3 linked regions of the Homo sapiens genome follow. The protein of the gene in region 1 purifies or fractionates together with the protein of each later gene. This does not show direct contact. Each region holds a gene or a part of one and is shown in the gene's direction. Other genes may lie near its edges. The genes, in order: CLEC4A, PCDHB13 and SEMA7A.

Evidence for each region.
Region 2: the proteins of CLEC4A (region 1) and PCDHB13 purify together in Homo sapiens (co-immunoprecipitation; 2 studies listed by BioGRID and IntAct, with this or other methods). This does not show direct contact.
Region 3: the proteins of CLEC4A (region 1) and SEMA7A purify together in Homo sapiens (co-immunoprecipitation; 2 studies listed by BioGRID and IntAct, with this or other methods). This does not show direct contact.

What each region holds. Positions count from the first base shown.
Region 1 is NC_000012.12:8,122,020-8,125,769, forward strand, and holds the start of CLEC4A (C-type lectin domain family 4 member A), read left to right. Parts: upstream 1-1,597; 5' UTR 1,598-1,859; coding exon 1,860-1,941; intron 1,942-3,541; coding exon 3,542-3,658; intron 3,659-3,750. UniProt on the Homo sapiens protein: C-type lectin receptor that binds carbohydrates mannose and fucose but also weakly interacts with N-acetylglucosamine (GlcNAc) in a Ca(2+)-dependent manner. Involved in regulating immune reactivity.
Region 2 is NC_000005.10:141,212,384-141,216,133, forward strand, and holds the start of PCDHB13 (protocadherin beta-13 precursor), read left to right. Parts: upstream 1-1,535; 5' UTR 1,536-1,740; coding exon 1,741-3,750. UniProt on the Homo sapiens protein: Potential calcium-dependent cell-adhesion protein. May be involved in the establishment and maintenance of specific neuronal connections in the brain.
Region 3 is NC_000015.10:74,409,959-74,413,608, reverse strand, and holds part of SEMA7A (semaphorin-7A isoform 1 preproprotein), read left to right. Parts: intron 1-1,596; coding exon 1,597-1,724; intron 1,725-1,898; coding exon 1,899-2,053; intron 2,054-2,176; exon of another isoform or gene 2,177-2,252; coding exon 2,253-2,314; intron 2,315-2,623; coding exon 2,624-2,985; 3' UTR 2,986-3,650. UniProt on the Homo sapiens protein: Plays an important role in integrin-mediated signaling and functions both in regulating cell migration and immune responses.

The sequences.
Region 1 (3,750 bases):
TTCAGAGACCAAGCATGATAAGGAGGGTGTCCATGTGGTGGGGTAGCCCAGTGAGGGAACTCAGATCCTAAGTAGGGTAAGATGGACATTATTGCTGGGGGATGGAGGACCTGCATGGAGTGTCAGAGCCCAAGCAGGATGAAGAAAGCTTCTATGCAGAGGGAGGACTTGGTGTGGGTTTCAGAAACTTAGCAGGATAAGGAGGTGGTCCATGTGGTAGGATAGCCCGGTGAGGAAATCAGACCCCTCCAGGGTGAGGAGGGCTTCCACCCATAGGGTGACCTTGTGTGGAGCATTAGAACCTAAGGGGGTCTAAGTGGTGACTAGGGGACCAGCATCAGGAATCAGAGTGCAAGCAGAGTGAGGAGGGCTTTCCTGCAGAGGAATGGCCTAGCACAGGGAGTCAGAGCCTTGGCAGGGTGAGGGGGATGTTTGTTGGGGGATGTTCATGGGGGTGGGGAGTGGGCTGGCCCTTTGCCGGCACTCTCAGAGTGAGGAGGGAGGGCATCCGCGCAGGGGATGGTGGCTTGGACTGGGGAGTCAGAGCCCAACTAGGAAGAGAGGGACATCTTAGCAGGTGGGAGATTGACGACATCCAGGAGATTGATCAAATAAGGAATAAGTGAAAGACAATGAAAGCAGGTTTCTTAGTGTCACAGAAAGGAGTTAGGAATGTGGGAAGGGAGAAAACTAGAATGAAACTTGTGGTGTTAGATTGGAATTAGAGGAATTAGTGTGAACTCATGGTGTTCAATATATTTAGATATAGAAATAATATAGAAATATAGACGTGTGTGTTTGTGTGTGTGTGCATGCATGTATGCATGTGTGTTATGCAGGAGAAGGAATCAGCTGGGGGAGATTAAAAGGAGGATCATTTGCGGAGAGTTGAGGGCAGAGAATCCAGGTGTGAGCTGGGAGCATGTCTATGGAGAGATTCCACATGAAGGATTTAATATTTGGAGTGTTTTCTTCTAGGCCTTTGGAAAAAGTCATATTTAGTACTTTGTTTAAGTTTATCCCCTTCTATACTGTGATTCTATATAATTCTCCTAACTGTTAAAAAATAGTCATATATATTGGAGGTGATGTGGCGATTAAAAGGTTAGGGAAGCATGGAATAAAGGCTGGCCTTCCCTCTCCTCCAACATCCAGTAAAGGGAGCTGCTTTCTGGAGATTCTAGCAAGATGAATGCAGACTTTTGATAGAGTTAGTTACCAACAAGGAAACACAGAGAGCATGGAGGAACAGCTTCAGAAGACATGGGGTTTAAACTTTGCCATCCCCACCATGCTACAGGAAACTAATTCGTGAAGGTGGGGAGGCTGATATGTGAGTTTTGTGTCAATGATACTCTTAGAATGTGGTACTAACAAGTTGCCTGATCAGTCAAAATTGATGAGATGAATGCAACATAAGTCTATGTTCAGGATGTTTGGTCAAAAGTAATTACATTTGTGTGTGGAAGCACAGAAATTGTATTTTTTACTGGTGAAAAACGCAGTTCTCCAGAAAGACTCTAAGTGCTTGGTTCTTCTTTTATTTTTCTTCCTCTTTCCGCAACCCTTTGAGTTCCCACTTTTATTGCATTTGCTTGCATTTGTTTCAAGGCTGTGATTCTCACTATACTGGTCCTGAGGAAAGGGCTTCTGTGAACTGCGGTTTTTAGTTTTTATTGTGGTTCTTAGTTCTCATGAGACCCCTCTTGAGGATATGTGCCTATCTGGTGCCTCTGCTCTCCACTAGTTGAGTGAAAGGAAGGAGGTAATTTACCACCATGTTTGGTTCCTGTTTATAAGATGTTTTAAGAAAGATCTGAAACAGATTTTCTGAAGAAAGCAGAAGCTCTCTTCCCATTATGACTTCGGAAATCACTTATGCTGAAGTGAGGTTCAAAAATGAATTCAAGTCCTCAGGCATCAACACAGCCTCTTCTGCAGGTAAAGATCATTTTCTAGGGGTCAGAGTGAATGACGAGGTGAAGGATGAGGAGAGGGTTTATGAATAAGGCATAGGTGTTTTCAGTTGCTGGTTGTCTGATTGAGTATGTCTGGGAAACACAAGAGTCCCAGAAGATTGAGTGGCCTGCAGATACGCATTACGGGGTGTACATTTGTATTGTGGAGAAGAAAAGATTTTGTGCCACTCTCTTCAGCCTCCACTCTGCTTACTGAAACAGAGGTGAGAGAAATCCACTCCAGTTCTGAGCTAAGGCGAGTGCTCTGATGCCCCTGTGTTTTCTGAGGCTGAGTGGGGCTGGGGTTAAGAGATTGAGTACAGCTTCTGAAACCATCAATCCAGATGCAGGGGGTCCTGATGAATTTGTGAGATTTGTTTTTTGATCAGTTAGAGGGAAAGAGTTTGGGTGGACAGTGGTGAGGGTATATTTGTTGGTAATGGATGGAAATGTAACAAAAGGCCTTTGCAAATGAAAGACTAGAAAGTCTACAAAGAAAGTCTCTTAAATCTCCAGGAAACTTTTTCTGAAATCAGAGAACCTATTGCGTGTTGCATCTCTGAGACAGACTCTGTTACGTTTGGGAGTAGATGCAAGGTGATTTGGGTGTCATGTGTGATATCTCAAGTATAGAGCAAAAGAGAGAAAAGAATGTATATAGAGTACAAGAAACTATGGGGGAAGGGGTCAGGACTATAGTTACGCTTTCTAAAATACCTCTGTGAAGGTGTGGAGAGCACTTAGGGAAATTTTTTCTCCTTAAAAACTTTATATAATTTCTTTATTACACAAGTATTAATGTTCATTGTAGAAAAAATTAACCAGAGGTACACAGATATTTGAATTATAATTACTCTTATCATCTAGAGAAAATCATAATTTGCAATTTAGTGAATATCCTTCCACATACAAATACATATAATGTGCATATGTATTTTACTAAAAATGTAATCATATTATATAATACTGAATTTTTTTCCCCCATCATTTGACAAAATATCATAACTCGAAGAAAGTGATTCCTAACCATGAGATGGTAACTAAAAAGACTGACTTTATTCTAAACATGTGATGAGGAATGATTATAAAGATTTATTTGCTATAGCATTATTTAAAGTTGGAAACCATTATTTAAATATATGATGAAATACTATGCAACCATAATAAGGAGTGTTAAAGAAGAAAATATAATGGTATGAAAAATGTTCATGATATAGTGTAAAGGAAAATAATAGGTCAGAAATCAGTATTTATGGTATGTCAATCGTGGGAAAATTTGCATATGTGTATATATACATTCAAAAAATTGCTAGAAAGATATATACCAAAATATTATGGTATATTATAAGTTATATGGCATAACAGTTATCCTCAATTGTAGGAATTCGTACTTTTATGTATTTTTTAAAGTTTCTACAGTGAATATTATTATATCCTTTCTATTCCTATTCTCATGTGATTTCAAATGTCATACCGTTAGTAACTGTGTGTCATCCAAGAAAAGAGAGAGAAAGAGGAGGAGGAAGAAGAGGAAGTAAAGACCAAACTTATTACTGATAAAACTAATTTGGCTTCTTCTTCAGCTTCCAAGGAGAGGACTGCCCCTCACAAAAGTAATACCGGATTCCCCAAGCTGCTTTGTGCCTCACTGTTGATATTTTTCCTGCTATTGGCAATCTCATTCTTTATTGCTTTTGTCAGTAAGTATGCCAACTGAACCAATAAGCAATATCTGCTGTCCATGAACAGAGGGTATCCTTTAAAAACTGACTTTTGAAAATGAGCTTATCCA
Region 2 (3,750 bases), on another chromosome or scaffold:
GTGTAATATCAAAGAGAAATATAGATGATCATTAAATTTTTAGAAATTTTGGGGAGTTAAGGAGAAGCATTGTTTGTTAAAAATATATAACCGATTCTTATATTTAAAATAGGTAATTTTTGCATAGTTGTGTTCTAAATATATTATAAACTAGTGCCAGTAACTCTAATAAAGCTAGTATTACTGCATATCACTGGTGGGATAGAATCTAAGGACAAAAACTCACAGTAGTAAAATCTAAAATTGCTTTCATGGTCTCAGGGTAAAATTATCCAATTTCTCTGACAAATAAATGGCTCAAAAAATAAGAGGAGTGAAGTTTACACAAGGAAAAATCTTAAGAGGTCTACCACTCAAATACAATGTGTGGATCTTTTTTGGATCTTGATTGAAACAACAGCAATGACTTTGAAAAACTTGGAAGAATTTGAATATAGATGGGTATTAAATAATGTTAACTTGATTTTTAGGTATGATAATGGCATTGTACTTAAGCATATTTTTAGAGTCATTTAAAGTCATGATGCTTTTAAAGAAATGTATAATGACGTATTTGTGGGAGAAAATTCAGTTTGTCTGGGATGTGAAAATGTTGAAGGGATAGAGTCAAGAATTATGGCAAAACATTGATAATAGTTGAAGCTAGTACTGAGTCCTTGGAGGATCATTATACTCCTCTCTTTTATGAGATTTGAAAAATTTCAAAATAATGTCTTTTAATTGATGCTGTTAGAAGTGGAGGTAATAAAAAAGGACATCCTTCCCAGAAACAAAATCACCACTGCTGTTACAGATATTGTCTCTATTTAGACAAACTCTCCAGCCTTTCCTTGTTCATTTCCTTTCATTATTGGACATAACCTCTCTACCTGAGATAGTCATGCTCCTGTATTCTTCTACCATTTGAATTTCGAGGTGTTTATCTAGTTATAGTAATGGATTTATGCTAGACTTATGATGGATTTATGCCATCAAGACTCAGTTACTTGATGGCATCAAATTGCTTTATACTTGGTATATACCTTATTTTTAAGGTTAATATCTATTTGCATTAGATTCCTCATGTTTAAGGTGGGGAATTCACAACAGCCCTATGTGGTAGGTACTGTTCTTATCCTCACTTTACAGAGGAGCAAACTAAAGCAGAGAGATTAAATAATTTGTTCGAGGTTCACAGCTACTAATTATTCCTATGGTTCATGGAAATAAAACTATAAAGATCTAAATGTTGTCCATGATAACTACAATTATATTTGAAATTCTTTTTGCCAAGCTAGACTATTACCTAAATATTTCCTTTCTGCCCAAAACTCAGTTATCATTGTTGAAAGACTAATGTGATTTCTCCTTTGGGCAGTTGTCTGCTCACTAAAGTCCGGCGATATTAACGGTGGTGTTGTAACCTTACATAGTCTCGGGGTGCATACAGGCAGAGTTGGGAATATTACATCCATTATCATTCCACAAAATGTAAGATCCTGTGAGGACGCGTGGTGGCGCTGCAGGATAAGAAGGCACAAACCAGAACCGCAGCTGCAGCTCCATTAACCGGCAAAAAGCAGCAGAACCTGGAAGTCCACGGGGAGCTTGGATGCCAAAGGGAGGACGGCTGGGTCCTCTGGAGAGGACTACTCACTGGCATATTTCTGAGGTATCTGTAGAATAACCACAGCCTCAGATACTGGGGACTTTACAGTCCCACAGAACCGTCCTCCCAGGAAGCTGAATCCAGCAAGAACAATGGAGGCCAGCGGGAAGCTCATTTGCAGACAAAGGCAAGTCCTTTTTTCCTTTCTCCTTTTGGGCTTATCTCTGGCGGGCGCGGCGGAACCTAGAAGCTATTCTGTGGTGGAGGAAACTGAGGGCAGCTCCTTTGTCACCAATTTAGCAAAGGACCTGGGTCTGGAGCAGAGGGAATTCTCCAGGCGGGGGGTTAGGGTTGTTTCCAGAGGGAACAAACTACATTTGCAGCTCAATCAGGAGACCGCGGATTTGTTGCTAAATGAGAAATTGGACCGTGAGGATCTGTGCGGTCACACAGAGCCCTGTGTGCTACGTTTCCAAGTGTTGCTAGAGAGTCCCTTCGAGTTTTTTCAAGCTGAGCTGCAAGTAATAGACATAAACGACCACTCTCCAGTATTTCTGGACAAACAAATGTTGGTGAAAGTATCAGAGAGCAGTCCTCCTGGGACTACGTTTCCTCTGAAGAATGCCGAAGACTTAGATGTAGGCCAAAACAATATTGAGAACTATATAATCAGCCCCAACTCCTATTTTCGGGTCCTCACCCGCAAACGCAGTGATGGCAGGAAATACCCAGAGCTGGTGCTGGACAAAGCGCTGGACCGAGAGGAAGAAGCTGAGCTCAGGTTAACACTCACAGCACTGGATGGTGGCTCTCCGCCCAGATCTGGCACTGCTCAGGTCTACATCGAAGTCCTGGATGTCAACGATAATGCCCCTGAATTTGAGCAGCCTTTCTATAGAGTGCAGATCTCTGAGGACAGTCCGGTAGGCTTCCTGGTTGTGAAGGTCTCTGCCACGGATGTAGACACAGGAGTCAACGGAGAGATTTCCTATTCACTTTTCCAAGCTTCAGAAGAGATTGGCAAAACCTTTAAGATCAATCCCTTGACAGGAGAAATTGAACTAAAAAAACAACTCGATTTCGAAAAACTTCAGTCCTATGAAGTCAATATTGAGGCAAGAGATGCTGGAACCTTTTCTGGAAAATGCACCGTTCTGATTCAAGTGATAGATGTGAACGACCATGCCCCAGAAGTTACCATGTCTGCATTTACCAGCCCAATACCTGAGAACGCGCCTGAAACTGTGGTTGCACTTTTCAGTGTTTCAGATCTTGATTCAGGAGAAAATGGGAAAATTAGTTGCTCCATTCAGGAGGATCTACCCTTCCTCCTGAAATCCGCGGAAAACTTTTACACCCTACTAACGGAGAGACCACTAGACAGAGAAAGCAGAGCGGAATACAACATCACTATCACTGTCACTGACTTGGGGACCCCTATGCTGATAACACAGCTCAATATGACCGTGCTGATCGCCGATGTCAATGACAACGCTCCCGCCTTCACCCAAACCTCCTACACCCTGTTCGTCCGCGAGAACAACAGCCCCGCCCTGCACATCCGCAGCGTCAGCGCTACAGACAGAGACTCAGGCACCAACGCCCAGGTCACCTACTCGCTGCTGCCGCCCCAGGACCCGCACCTGCCCCTCACATCCCTGGTCTCCATCAACGCGGACAACGGCCACCTGTTCGCCCTCAGGTCTCTGGACTACGAGGCCCTGCAGGGGTTCCAGTTCCGCGTGGGCGCTTCAGACCACGGCTCCCCGGCGCTGAGCAGCGAGGCGCTGGTGCGCGTGGTGGTGCTGGACGCCAACGACAACTCGCCCTTCGTGCTGTACCCGCTGCAGAACGGCTCCGCGCCCTGCACCGAGCTGGTGCCCCGGGCGGCCGAGCCGGGCTACCTGGTGACCAAGGTGGTGGCGGTGGACGGCGACTCGGGCCAGAACGCCTGGCTGTCGTACCAGCTGCTCAAGGCCACGGAGCTCGGTCTGTTCGGCGTGTGGGCGCACAATGGCGAGGTGCGCACCGCCAGGCTGCTGAGCGAGCGCGACGCGGCCAAGCACAGGCTGGTGGTGCTGGTCAAGGACAATGGCGAGCCTCCGCGCTCGGCCACCGCCACGCTGCACGTGCTCCTGGTGGACGGCTTCTCCCAGCCCTAC
Region 3 (3,650 bases), on another chromosome or scaffold:
CCATCCTTGCTTGGCTCCAGTAGTGGCTGGCACAGCTGTTGTGGTCAGCCAGGGATGGCAGGGCACTGGGGAGCAGAAGAGGAGAGGTCACACAGTGCGGAACTGGGAGCAGGAGCTAGGACAAGGAAGGCTGGACTTGGGCCATGGATTCCCTTCCTGCAGACTTGGGAGGTGAGCACACTTGAGTGATTAGAGAAGGTGTCTTCGTTCTAAGGGCAGTGGAGGAGGCACCATTTTGGAGCCTGCATCATTCGTATTTGGGCTAGACTGAAAAATAGAGCTTTCTAAGTCCTCTGCAGAGAATGGGAGGCTCTCACAACTGGGAGAAGTATTGGCTCTTTTCCTGAGAATTTTGCCAAGGGTATGCTGTTACTGGGGCTGGTTTGGAAGGAGGTATAGGGCAGTATGTCTGTGAAGGCAGTGGCTGGGGTGGGGCCTTATCAGGCCCAAGGAGCATCTGGCCACATCTCAGAGTCCACAGATGAGGATCACGGATGTGTAGAGGAAACATCCTAGGCAGGCAATCATCTGACTGCTTTTTTGGGGCAGGTGATGCCCTGGGAAATTGGGAGGGAGGGAGAGAGGGAGGTAGGCTATTCTAGAAACTGGGAGAGCAGGTGAGGTAGGATTGGGAGGACCAGGGGTCAGGGTGCCCATTGGTCCCTAATTGTGAACGGAGAGAGCATTGGTCTAGGAGGCAGGCAGCTCGGTTATAAGACCTTGGGAACTCTTGATTTAGAATCCAAGATCCTTTTTAGATCTAAGATTTTATAAAATTAAGATATCCCCTAAGATCAAATGCAACGTGGAGTCCTGAATTGGATCCTAGAACAGAAGAAGGACATTTGTGGAAAAACTAGTGAAATCCAAATAAAGTCTGTAGTTTTGTTAATAGTAATGCACCAATGTCAGTTGCCTAGTTGTGACAAATATACCGTGGTTATGTAAGATGGTAACATTAGGGGGAACTGGAGAAGGGTAGATTGGAGCTCTCTGTACTATCTTTGCAACTTTTCTGGGAATCTAAAATTACTCCAAAATAAAAAAAAAATGTATTTAAAGTAAATATATTCCCTAAGAGTCCAGGAGGCAGGGGAGTTGTAGAAGCAGCTGAGTGGTTGGGCTCTGACAGATTTGGGTTCCAACTCGGTCTCTGCTGCTCACCAGCTGTGTGACCTTGAGCAAGTGGCTTAGCCTTTCTGAGCCTGATTTCCTTATCTGTGGAGTGGGGAAGATGACAGCCACCTCGCAGGGCTGTGGAGGGTTAAACGAGGTGATGCATGGACAGCAGCCGCACTGACCTTGCTGGTGTGGGGCTCCTGCTTCTGTTCTTCCCGTGCAGCCTTGGGAATGTTGGAGGCCGTATCCAGGGACCCCTGGGCCTCCTGGGATGGCCTCTCTGGATCAGCCTTGGAAGGTTCCAGGCTGCCCTTAGGCTCCCACATTCTTCCCCAGTCACGCTCTCCTCGCCCTGCCCACACCAGTCCTGTGACCCTTGCCTGAGTTGTGACTTCCCACCCCTCCCCGGCCTAGAGGAAAGCTGCCTGGCCCCTCAGTGGGACTCCCGCCCACTGACCCTCTGTCCACCATACACAGACAGGGGCACTATCCACAAGGTGGTGGAACCGGGGGAGCAGGAGCACAGCTTCGCCTTCAACATCATGGAGATCCAGCCCTTCCGCCGCGCGGCTGCCATCCAGACCATGTCGCTGGATGCTGAGCGGGTGAGCCTTCCCCCACTGCGTCCCATGGGCTATGCAGTGACTGCAGCTGAGGACAGGGCTCCTTTGCATGTGATTTGTGTGTTCTTTTAAGAGCTTCTAGGCCTTAGGGCCTGGACATTTAGGACTGAGTGTGGGGTGGGGCCCGGGCCTGACCCAATCCTGCTGTCCTTCCAGAGGAAGCTGTATGTGAGCTCCCAGTGGGAGGTGAGCCAGGTGCCCCTGGACCTGTGTGAGGTCTATGGCGGGGGCTGCCACGGTTGCCTCATGTCCCGAGACCCCTACTGCGGCTGGGACCAAGGCCGCTGCATCTCCATCTACAGCTCCGAACGGTACGTTGGCCGGGATCCCTCGTCCCTGGGAGAAGGTGGGCATGGGAGAGGGGGAGGTGTTGTCGGGCTGGAGGAGGTGGCGGTACTGGGCCTTTCTTGTGGGACCCTCCTCTCTGCTGGAACTGCACTGGGGTAAGGATAGGAGGGTCAGGTCTGCAGCCTTGTATCTGCTGATCCTCTTTCGTCCTTCCCACTCCAGGTCAGTGCTGCAATCCATTAATCCAGCCGAGCCACACAAGGAGTGTCCCAACCCCAAACCAGGTACCTGATCTGGCCCTGCTGGCGGCTGTGGCCCAATGAGTGGGGTACTGCCCTGCCCTGATTGTCCTGGTCTGAGGGAGACATGGCCTTGTCCTGTGGGCCCCAGGTACATGGGGCAGGATACAGTCCTGCAGAGGGAGCCCTCTTGGTGGGATGAGCGAGACGGGAGAAAAAAGGAGGACGCTGAGGGCTGGGTTCCCCACGTTCATTCAGAAGCCTTGTCCTGGGATCCCAGTCCGTGGGGAGGACACATCCTCCCCTGGGAGCTCTTTGTCCCTCCTCACGGCTGCTTCCCCACTGCCTCCCCAGACAAGGCCCCACTGCAGAAGGTTTCCCTGGCCCCAAACTCTCGCTACTACCTGAGCTGCCCCATGGAATCCCGCCACGCCACCTACTCATGGCGCCACAAGGAGAACGTGGAGCAGAGCTGCGAACCTGGTCACCAGAGCCCCAACTGCATCCTGTTCATCGAGAACCTCACGGCGCAGCAGTACGGCCACTACTTCTGCGAGGCCCAGGAGGGCTCCTACTTCCGCGAGGCTCAGCACTGGCAGCTGCTGCCCGAGGACGGCATCATGGCCGAGCACCTGCTGGGTCATGCCTGTGCCCTGGCCGCCTCCCTCTGGCTGGGGGTGCTGCCCACACTCACTCTTGGCTTGCTGGTCCACTAGGGCCTCCCGAGGCTGGGCATGCCTCAGGCTTCTGCAGCCCAGGGCACTAGAACGTCTCACACTCAGAGCCGGCTGGCCCGGGAGCTCCTTGCCTGCCACTTCTTCCAGGGGACAGAATAACCCAGTGGAGGATGCCAGGCCTGGAGACGTCCAGCCGCAGGCGGCTGCTGGGCCCCAGGTGGCGCACGGATGGTGAGGGGCTGAGAATGAGGGCACCGACTGTGAAGCTGGGGCATCGATGACCCAAGACTTTATCTTCTGGAAAATATTTTTCAGACTCCTCAAACTTGACTAAATGCAGCGATGCTCCCAGCCCAAGAGCCCATGGGTCGGGGAGTGGGTTTGGATAGGAGAGCTGGGACTCCATCTCGACCCTGGGGCTGAGGCCTGAGTCCTTCTGGACTCTTGGTACCCACATTGCCTCCTTCCCCTCCCTCTCTCATGGCTGGGTGGCTGGTGTTCCTGAAGACCCAGGGCTACCCTCTGTCCAGCCCTGTCCTCTGCAGCTCCCTCTCTGGTCCTGGGTCCCACAGGACAGCCGCCTTGCATGTTTATTGAAGGATGTTTGCTTTCCGGACGGAAGGACGGAAAAAGCTCTATTTTTATGTTAGGCTTATTTCATGTATAGCTACTTCCGACTGCATCTGTATGAAAATACCAAAACT